Linked DNA regions of Homo sapiens: region 1 is reported to be linked to region 2. The links are microRNA targets in miRTarBase. Many come from high-throughput screens and were not tested one by one. Region 2 holds a microRNA gene; the other region holds the end of a gene's coding sequence.
Evidence for each region. The annotated mature microRNA hsa-miR-138-1-3p reads GCUACUUCACAACACCAGGGCC and lies in region 2 at 1,471-1,492, opposite strand. An mRNA with a match to its seed (bases 2 to 7 or 8) in the 3' UTR can be bound and repressed. Matches are read on the target gene's strand: a 7mer-m8 pairs with bases 2 to 8, a 7mer-A1 pairs with bases 2 to 7 and ends in A, and an 8mer does both.

Region 1: the mRNA of TMBIM4 is a reported target of hsa-miR-138-1-3p. Seed matches in the 3' UTR shown: 7mer-m8 at 3,660-3,666.

The regions. Positions count from the first base shown.
Region 1 is chr12:66,133,583-66,138,958 of GRCh38, forward strand. It overlaps TMBIM4 (transmembrane BAX inhibitor motif containing 4), which reads right to left. Exons shown (of 7, transcript NM_016056.4): 6 at 5,142-5,187; 7 at 2,264-4,584. The coding sequence ends at 4,378. LLPH-DT (LLPH divergent transcript) reads left to right here. Exons shown (of 2, transcript NR_125724.1): 2 at 470-867. Among named protein-coding and RNA genes, the nearest start is that of LLPH-DT, 5.5 kb to the left of the region's middle.
Region 2 is chr3:44,110,390-44,115,765 of GRCh38, reverse strand. MIR138-1 (microRNA 138-1) reads right to left here and starts at 1,554; the gene lies at 1,456-1,554. LOC124909489 (a long non-coding RNA gene) reads right to left here. Exons shown (of 5, transcript XR_007096256.1): 4 at 4,354-4,489; 5 at 1-1,602. RefSeq lists an enhancer at 1,010-1,509.

The DNA.
Region 1 (5,376 bases), not on the chromosome of region 2:
CAAAGGTTTTCAAACTTCTTGGTCTTGGGATTCCTTTACACGCTTATTATATTGATCTTATCAGAAATTAAAACAATTTTTTTTGGAAAATTTAAGTCATTTAGAAAGGATAAACTTACTACATGTTAACATTTTTATGGAAAATAACTATATTTTCTAAATAAAAAATAATTTAGTGAAAAGAATGGCATTGTTTTACATTTTAAAAATGTCAGATCTACTTTTGCTTATACAGAATCTTTAGTCACAATCAGTCCATTCCACCTTTGAACTGAAAATGGTATTAATAGCGTGCAAAAATGTAAGGGGGCCTCTCCCTCTCCCTCTCCCTCTCCGTCTCCCTCTCCCTCTCCCTCTCCCTCTCCCTCTCACTCTCCCCACGGTCTCCCTCTCATGCGGAGCCGAAGCTGGACTGTACTGCTGCCATCTCGGCTCACTGCAACCTCCCTGCCTGATTCTCCTGCCTCAGCCTGCCGAGTGCCTGCGATTGCAGGCACGCGCCGCCACACCTGACTGGTCTTGGTGGAGACGGGGTTTCGCTGTGTTGGCCGGGCCGGTCTCCAGCCCCTGACCGCGAGTGATCCGCCAGCCTTGGCCTCCCGAGGTGCCAGGATTGCAGACGGAGTCTCGTTCACTCAGTGCTCAATGGTGCCCAGACTGGAGTGCAGTGGCGTGATCTCGGCTCGCTACGGCCTACACCTCCCAGCCGCCTGCCTTGGCCTCCCACGGTGCCGAGATTGCAGCCTCTGCCCGGCCGCCACCCCGTCTGGGAAGTGAGGAGCGTCTCTGCCTGGCTGCCCATCGTCTGGGATGTGAGGAGCCTCTCTGCCTGGCTGCCCAGTCTGGAAAGTGAGGAGCGTCTGCGCCCGGCCGCCATCCCATCTAGGAAGTGAGGAGCGCCTCTTCCCAGCCGCCATCACATCTAGGAAGTGAGGAGCGTCTCTGCCCGGCCGCCCATCGTCTGAGATGTGGGGAGCGCCTCTGCCCCGCCGCCCCATCTGGGATGTGAGGAGTGCCTCTGCCCGGCCGAGACCCCGTCTGGGAGGTGAGGAGCGTCTCTGCCCGGCCGCCCCGTGTGAGAAGTGAGGAGACCCTCTGCCTGGCAACCACCCCGTCTGAGAAGTGAGGAGCCCCTCCGCCCGGCAGCTGCCCCGTCTGAGAAGTGAGGAGCCTCTCCGCCCGGCAGCCACCCCATCTGGGAAGTGAGGAGCGTCTCTGCCCGGCAGCCACCCCGTCCGGGAGGGAGGTGGGGGGGTCAGCCCCTGCCCGGCCAGCCGCCCCATCCGGGAGGGAGGTCGGGGGTCAGCCCCCCGCCCGGCCAGCCGCCCCGTCCGGGAGGTGAGGGGCGCCTCTGCCCGGCCACCCCTACTGGGAAGTGAGGAGCCCCTCAGCCTGGCCAGCTGCCCTGTCCGGGAGGGAGGTGGGGGGGTCAGCCCTCCGCCCGGCCAGCCGCCCCGTCTGGGAGGTGAGGGGCGCCTCTGCCCGGCCGCCCCTACTGGGAAGTGAGGAGCCCCTCTGCCCGGCCAGCCGCCCCGTCCGGGAGGGAGGTGGGGGGGTCAGCCCCCTGCCCAGCCAGCCGCCCTGTCCAGGAGGGAGGTGGGGGGGTCAGCCCTCCGCCCGGCCAGCTGCCCCGTCTGGGAGGTGAGGGGCGCCTCTGCCCGGCCGCCCCTACTGGGAAGTGAGGAGCCCCTTTGCCCGGCCAGCCGCCCAGTCTGGGAGGGAGGTGGGGGGGTCAGCCCCCTGCCCGGCCAGCTGCCCCGTCCGGGAGGTGAGGGGCACCTCTGCCCGGCCGCCCCTACTGGGAAGTGAGGAGCCCCTCTGCCCGGCCAGCTGCCCCGTCTGGGAGGGAGGTGGGGGGGGGTCAGCCCCCCCGCCCGGCCAGCTGCCCCGTCCGGGAGGTGAGGGGCGCCTCTGCCCGGCCGCCCCTACTGGGAAGTGAGGAGCCCCTCTGCCCAGCCACCACCCCGTCTGGGAGGTGTGCCCAACAGCTCATTGAGAACGGGCCATGATGACAATGGCGGTTTTGTGGAATAGAAAAGGGGGAAAGGTGGGGAAAAGATTGAGAAATCGGATGGTTGCTGTGTCTGTGTAGAAAGAAGTAGACATGGGAGACTTTTCATTTTGTTCTGCACTAAGAAAAATTCTTCTGCCTTGGGATCCTGTTGATCTGTGACCTTACCCCCAACCCTGTGCTCTCTGAAACATGTGCTGTGTCCACTCAGGGTTAAATGGATTAAGGGCGGTGCAAGATGTGCTTTGTTAAACAGATGCTTGAAGGCAGCATGCTCGTTAAGAGTCATCACCAATCCCTAATCTCAAGTAATCAGGGACACAAACACTGCGGAAGGCTGCAGGGTCCTCTGCCTAGGAAAACCAGAGACCTTTGTTCACTTGTTTATCTGCTGACCTTCCCTCCACTATTGTCCCATGACCCTGCCAAATCCCCCTCTGTGAGAAACAACCAAGAATTATCAATAAAAAAATAAATTAAAAAAAAAAAAAAAAAAAAAAAAAGAAAATGGTATTAATACCATCAGCTGACATTAATTAAGCACTTAGTTTAGTTTATTTATCTATCTCATTTAATCCTTATAACAGCCCAATAAGCTAGACATCATTATTCCCATTATGAAGATGAGGCAGAAGACCTAAGGAAGGATAAATAATTCGCCAAATGTCACTTAAGCACCTGGTTGGACTGCAATGATTCTAATCTAGATGCTCTTACCCACCATGCTGTTAAACTTGATTGCACTGCATCATACACTTGATAATTCAACAGTTAATGATAATAAAGTCAAATTTACATCTACAAATCATGCAAGCTTAAATTGATACTACAAGTTTATTTCAACTTAATAGCTGGGAAATACTTAGGGGGTGTTATGGGCTGAGTTGTAGTCCCCCCAAAATTCACATGAAGAAATCCTAATCCCAGCACTTCAGAATGTGACTGTATTTGGAGATAGGTTTTGAAAGAGATAATTAAGGAAAAATGAGGTCCTCAGTGTGGGCCCTAATCCAGTATGACTGGTGTCCTCATAAGAAGAAGAAATTTGGGCACAGACAAGTACAGAGGGAAGGCCATTTAAAGACACAGGGAGAAGATGGCCATCTACAAATCAAAGAGAAAGGCCTCAAAGGAAACCAACCCTGCTAACACCTTGATCTTGGACTTTTAGCCTCCAGAACTGTGGGAAAACAAATTTCTTGTTGAAGCCACCCAAGCTGTAGAACTTTGTTATGGCAGCCTAACAAACTAGTACAGTGAGGGAATTTGACAAAATTTCATTGGTTACTGGTACACTGACCTAACATGCTGTGTGGACCAACACAAATGAAACCATAAGACAATACTTCCCAAATATTTTAATTTTGAAATAGATATACTTAATGGCTGATGACCCAGTATCTTTGGTGTCCTCTAACCACATTACCATTCTATAATTTCAAATGAAATCTATACTTTAAAAACAATTAATGTCAAATTTTGTCATAATATCTGACTTTCAGGCCAACTTTTAATGTTAGTACAATTTAAAATAAAAAGTCATTAACATTTTAATGTAATACTGAATAATTCTCTGTGGAATTTATCTTTTACATTTTTTTCCTTTTAAGCAAAAAGAGATTTACAGTTTATAATGGTAAAGACTCTACTACTTCAGAATCAAAGCCAAATCAATATTACTTAATAATTCAGGGAAAATTTAGATAAAATCACTAGACAACGGTAAACTGATATTCTTATCTACTCATAAAATTATTTTTGAATTGCAAACGAACTGCTATGCGTGGCTAATTTAGGAAGAAAAATTTTTTTTTTTTTTTTGAGACTGAGTCTCGCTCTGTCACCAGGCTGGAATGCAGTGGCGTGATCTTGGCTCAATGCAACCTCCACCTCCCAGGTTCAAGCGATTCTCTGGCCTCAGCCTCTTGACTAGCTGGGACTACAGGTGTGTGCCACCACATCCAGCTAATTTTTGTATTTTTAGTAGAGACGGGGTTTCACCATGTTGGCCAGGATGGTCTCAACCTCTTGACCTCGTGATCCACCTGCCTCGGTCTCCCAAAGTGGTGGGATTACAGGCGTGAGCCACTGTGCCCAGCCAGAAAAGCATTTTTAATAGAATTTTGATAGCTCTTAACTGAGATCCTAAATCAAGGATTTAGAAATGAGGTATCATAAAGAATAGTAAGATTTTAAAGCTCTCAAAATTACATATGATACAAATAAAGATTGTAACAGTATTTAATCATTGTTTCAAACTTTATTACTTAATGAAACAGTTTCTATATACTGCTTCCAATTACTTTAATCCTTTTTTCTCATTAAATTTTTTTTGTTGTTCTTCAGTTGAGCTGAGATACTTTTAATTACTTTTTATTAACTGCTTCCAGAAACCGTAACAGGTGCAGGAATAGATTGATGATATCCAAGTAGAGGCTGATGGCAGCTAATACGTACTCTTCAGGTGACAGTTTATGCATCAGTGAGTGTGTGTCATAGATGATGAATCCACAGAAAAGAAGGGCTCCTGCAGCGGCTAAGACCAACTCCATTATCTCACTATAAAAAAAAAACTATAGGGAAGAGATTAAAGAAATATGTTTATATTTGAGAACAGTATTAACAGGACTTAACTTACTTCCTCTAATGATTTACTGCTACATTATACATTTGACAATGGTGTACAACTTTGAATACAAATGTTAAAAGCAGAAAAAGGCAAGGCAAGTCCAAACTTGCCTCTGTTGGATGGAAGGATGAATGAGTGGTTATATTCCATTAAACTAAATTACCCACTTTGAAAAACAGCATTCCACATATAAATTATTTAAAAATATATTTCGTTTTTCACAATTAAATGTGCCACTGGAGCTTGGCAGTTGTAAGCAAGGGCCTCTTTCTATGTAATTTAATTCATTTATTCATTCATCTTTTTTTCAGTCAATAATAAGGACCAACACAAGACCCTGATTTTCTAAAGGGATAATTCTATAATCATTCTATATACAAATGTTCTGGATAATTATAACTAAGTGTCCTATCATAAGAGTATCTCTTATAGCTTTTTGAGGTTATTTATATTGACACAGCCAGAATTATATTTCAAATTAACCATTATAACATAACTTACCTTCAAGAATCCTGACAGGCACAATATCCACAAAAGAGCAAACAGCCTATAAAAATACAATTTTAGTAATTTGCAATATTGTTCCTTACAAAAAAACTTTGTAAACCCATTCAACACTTTCTGAAAAAAACATCCATCTGGATTTTTTGCTGAAGAATAACTAAAATGTAAGAATTTGTAAACATACAATGAATATAATGCCCATCTTGGATCTTTTTTTTAAAGAAATTGAAAG
Region 2 (5,376 bases):
TGTCTAATTTTTAAAAACATTCTTTATAGAGATTAGGTCTGGCTATGTTCCCCGAGTTGGCCACTGGAGATTCTGATGGAGCAGGTGCATGGTGGTCCCTGGGATCCTGCTTTTCCAACATGCTGAAGCTGCCACCCATGGACCACACCATGAGTGGCTCTAGCTTGGACTCCGTTGGTCGTAGGGGAGTTGGTAACTGGATGAATTCTTAGGAGACAGCAAGAAGCCCTTTCTGAAAACTGGGACTATTTTGCTTTGAAGATATTTGTCCCTAAACATAATTTAGTACAAATTTCAGAGATGCCCTTAACGATATAGGGATGGAGTGAGGGATAGAACTTTACAGAAGTAGACTCACCCTCCATAATTCTAAGGTGATACAGATGCAGGTGGCTCTGGTTAACTCAGGCTCTATGTAACCTGGGTGCTATGCAAGGTTTGCATGGTGCTTGTTTTTATCCGTCTCTCTGGTTTTCAGAGCAGCAAGAACCCTATACAAACAGACTATAGACTGGGCCTGAGTTAATCAGAGTGGCTCTGGATCTTTGTCCTGTAGAAAACTAGAGAGAGGAATATCCTCCTTTTTATTAGCGTTATGGAAAGGACACCAGCCAACCCAGCCACTCTATCTTGAAAACTCTTGCTTGGGCTCTGAAAAATGGTGATGTCACATATAAGATTTAAGTTAGGCACAAAATACTACTCCAACTCTAGAGACCTCCATTAGTTTTCCAGCTCTGCTGGGTCCATGGCTGTAAGGACCTGGGGAAAGGAAGCCCATCTGTCAGCACAGGTGATGGCAAGTATTACCTTTGATGGAGTGTCTGGCAGATCAGTGCCCTAGGAACAATCCCATGCTTGGTTCTCGTCCAGCCCTCAGGTCACTGGGACATGCACTGATGGAGAGCTGTGGAACTCTCCCTGGCCAAGAAAGGTGTTTGCTTTCCAGGGACCCTGGGACCATCTAGGAAGTGGATGCATTACCTGCATGTGTGGCTACAAAGAGCCTTCCTCTCTCCAGGAGGCCACCGTCCTATTACTAGGTCCTCCCTTCCCTCTACTTTGCCCTATTCAAAGCTACCATCACCAAGTATCAAAACAAAGGTCCCAACTCCGCAACCATTGTGTGTTTTGGCACCTAGGAGGAAATGTTCAGTTGAGTGGCGCTTAACCCTCCTGATGGCCCATAACTTCATTTTCACAGTGGGAAACCTGGTAGCACCATTTTCTCTGTAGGAAGCTAATGTTACCAGGAGTGTCTTTTTCTTTAAAAGTGGAGCATTTGTGTTGGGGGATAAACAGCAGCCTCAGGAGGCCAGTGTCTGCAGGGGAGCTGCAGCAGCCAGCCCAGAACTGGAAAGCCGCGTGCCTGGGTTCTGGAGCCGAGGGTCCTCTGTGACGGGTGTAGCTGCCTCGCCAGAGGGCGCCCTTGCGGGTTCTGGAGCTGGAATGCTGCCTGTAGTGTGGTGTGGCCCTGGTGTTGTGAAGTAGCCGTTCTCTGATTGGCAACGGCCTGATTCACAACACCAGCTGCCCCACCACACCATGCCAGGGAGGTCTCTGGGGCAGGCCGATGGGCGTAGAGATGCCTTTGTGCTGCTGCTGCCGGAGGTGGAGAGAGGACAGAGAACAGCCAGAAGTGAGAACCGGGAAGCAAGCATATGCTAACATTTCACTGCCTTCCCCAGCCCCACCTGAAAGACTTTTTTTCGTTGTGCCTTTTGTGAACTTCCCCATCCCATAGGGGTCATGGGTGGGTATCCATGGCTCCAAGGAGTCCCGGGTCCTGAACACAAACTTACCTGTGTGTTGGTATTTCTCTGGGAAGAGGATCTGCCTTCAATAAATGCTCAAAGGGAAACACAGCCCTCCACAGCTTAAGTATGTCCAGTGTGGGCCTTCATAGCATTTGATGATCACCATACCTCCCAGAACAAAGTTTTTTCCCCACCAATGCTTTTCTGGGAGAAATGCAAGGAATCCCATTACTGTGTTGCCAAACACAGAAACCAGAAACCAGACATGGTTCTTACTGCATATTCTGAGTAATTTCTTTCCCTCGGCTGCCCCTCACCCCTCCATTTGTATGCTGTCCAGGGTCCCCAAACCTCCAAGGCCACGCTTGGAGTAGCTTCCATGTCTACTGAGGATGATCAGGGTCAAAATGGAACCCTTCAAGGATGCACAGCAATCTCCCTGCTCAGTCCTCTACAGAGTGGGGAACACATTCCAGATAAAAAATAAGGGTGACCACCGAGGATTTGAGGCAGTCAAACAAACCAACCAAAGCTGAGACTGGCTGAAAAGAAATCAGGTAGCCAACATGGACACACTTAACCATCACGGCGCCTGTCCTTCCATCAGCCAGTGACCCGCCAGGGTGCTTCCTCCCCTGGCTTCAGCGGGTCCAGGATCCTGAATGTCTGTACTACGGAAACCCAGTAGTAAGATCACTTGGGAGCTCTCCTTTTGGTAGCTGCCTGGATTTTATCACCATTATGAAATTATATAGCATAAACTTGATGTGAAAATAGCATTTGAAGTTTAAACCCTATTTCCAGGTGTCAATAAACACTTTAAATGAACAGCTCTTTGGCCCAAAATGGCTCCCGCATGCTGTGTGGTTCTTAGTTACCCAATCAAGAAAAATCACATTTCCCACTTTCTGCCATCTATCTTGGAACCCACTTTATTTTAAGGACATAAACTTGGCAACTTCCTAGTACTGGATATGGCATAGAAGTTCTGCCAAAGTTCTTGCCAGAGTTGGGGGAAGCAGAAACTTTGAGTAATATATCAATCATAGCTTATCACCAGGCCACATAAATCACTGTGGTCTTGGAGTTCAGAAATGTCTGGATTTTTCCTATCTGCAATCAGTGATTCTCTGCTGGGACATTAGGCTATAATCTCTACACTGGGGCCTCTGGCCCACAGAATCCCAGGCTGGGAATGTAGGTTGGGAACACTAGATAAATGTGTGTATTTGATGAGCATTGGTGTTGACTAAGTTAACATGGCTGGCTTTCCAAGCATCAGGTAGAGACCTGGAATTTTTTCTTTCCCATGGGGCTGAAATTTCTGCGGACTGTCTTGAGGACCAATAACCACTCACTTTGAGAATGAGCAAGTTCCAGAAAGTGGGATTAACTCCTTGTAAAAAGTTGCTGACCAAGAGGGTACATGGGAAGGTCACGCTGGTACCAGGTAAAACCTGTACAAACTCCAAGAAATTAGACAACACAAACCCACATCCTGGCGCTATCCCATCTCTGTGTCTGAGGGGCAAAAGGTGACTCAGGAATAGGTGAGAAACTGGGGCCATGAACAGACTCATCTGCAGCCAACTCCACTTTGTGGTTCTGTCGAGAATCCGCTAGTGCCCAAGGGGATACAGAGAGATCAATAAATCATCAATAAATGGCCATCATGTTTTAACTTCCAATGCTTGCAAGGACTTGGCACCTTAAAGGGCAGGGCCAGGCCTGGCACAGGCCCTACCCCCTCTTCCCCTAACCCTCCCTATTCTCCTCCTCTCTGTGCTTTCTTAACTTCTCAAATGAACCATGCTCCCTCTCACCCCAGTGCCCTCACACAAGCTGCTTCCTCTGCCTGGAATGCCTTTTTCCCAGTTCTGCATGTTGAATACCAACTCCTTCAAGCTTCAACTCCAGTCACTTCCTGGACCTCCAACCTCAGACCAGACCTGACTCCTCTGTAACATGCTCTACAGGTAGCTGGTCCTCTTCCTTGCACTTCTCATGGCATGTGAGTGAAGTCTCCTCCAACTTCAACACTGGGTTCCCAGCGTTGGCCATGTGGGAGATGCTTGATGAATACTGGTTGGATGAATGAATGATTTCAACCAAGACTCAATGGCCCAGTTATTCTTTTCTAAGTGCTCAGATGAATCCCTCAGGAGAATAAATATGGCACCAAGTATTTTAGAAACATACATGGTGCTATTCTGTAATGAATAATTTTACTTCAATAGACTGTCAGACCTCTTAACTCATCTTCCTGACTCTAGGCTAACTTCATGCTGATCTGACTCACCCTCTCCTAAACTCCCCATTGCCCCAGGATAGAGTGAGTCCCAGATCCTGCAGCCTCTTTTCCAGCATGACCCTCCCCGGTGGTGCAGTGGTGCCCCAGCATACCACATGTGCATGCTTCTGTGGATCTGAACCTGACTGGAAGGCCCACACCCCTTTCTATCGAGAAAATTCCTCTTTCTGCAGTCCCAGTTCTGGAGCTAGCCATCAAGGAGGCCTTCCTTGCCCATTGCTCAGCTTGCACTCTTGGCCTGGCCTCTGACTCTTGTACCTTTTGTGTCCTTCCATTACTACTTACATCTTCAGTCTGTCTTAGTTGATGGTGAACCTGAGGACGGAAGCCATCGTGGAGTCGCCTGGCAGGTCAACACTCACACAGCATCTGGAACACAGGGGCCTTCAGCCTGGATGTGCTTCCATTCCATAAGGAGTTCCTGCAAAGCAGGGGGTGTAAGGGCACTATGATAGTAAAAATCTGTTCTTTGTGTCCCCTGTGAATCATCAGAATGTCCAGAAAGTTCCAATATTTTGCCATATTAAGTGCATTTCTTCATCTCCATGGCCACCCAAACTCCCAGTCCAGACCCCTGCCAGAGCAGGGGTCTTCAGGCTGCATGTGGGCTGGCTGAGTGCCAAGGAGTTAACATTCCCAAGGAGCATCAACCAGTGACGGACGGGGGTTAGTGGATAAACACCCGGCTCTCTGGCCCCCTGGGTGGGATAACCCTGAGATGTGTTCTACACCAGCTCACAGAGGTCCGCATGTGCCAGCAGCAGTAACCTGATGGATAACCTTTACTGGCTCCCTTCCTCAGTCTCTTACAACGCTTCCTGGACTACTGCCCAACACTCAGCAGTGCAGTTAGTGTCAGTGTGAAGTGTATTCAAGTCCACTCATGGTTTTGAATGGGTGGATGTTATGCTGTTGCCAGGATGGGGCCAGGGCGAGAGGAGAGAGGCACCCTCCGTGCTGATCCTGCTCTCGTCTGAGCTAGACCATGGGTGCTTCCTGAGATTCTGCATCTTGGACATCTTGCCTGCTCACTCCAGACCCCCCCGACTTTCAGGAAATCAGAATATAAAACTCAGATAAAACAACCTATCCCAAGTAGGTGTTTTCCAGAGTGTGCCGTATCTATATTTCTTCACTGCTTTTTCATAGACAATCACCCTCTAAATGGAGGACCTTTTGGCTTCCAAATTCTGAGGTATTAGGATCATTCTACATGGTCAGTAAAGCATACATGTTATTGTAGGCATTTAAGACAGCATGTCTACTTTAAGATGATGGCAAAAAAACCAAAAGGCAACCTGTAAAGCT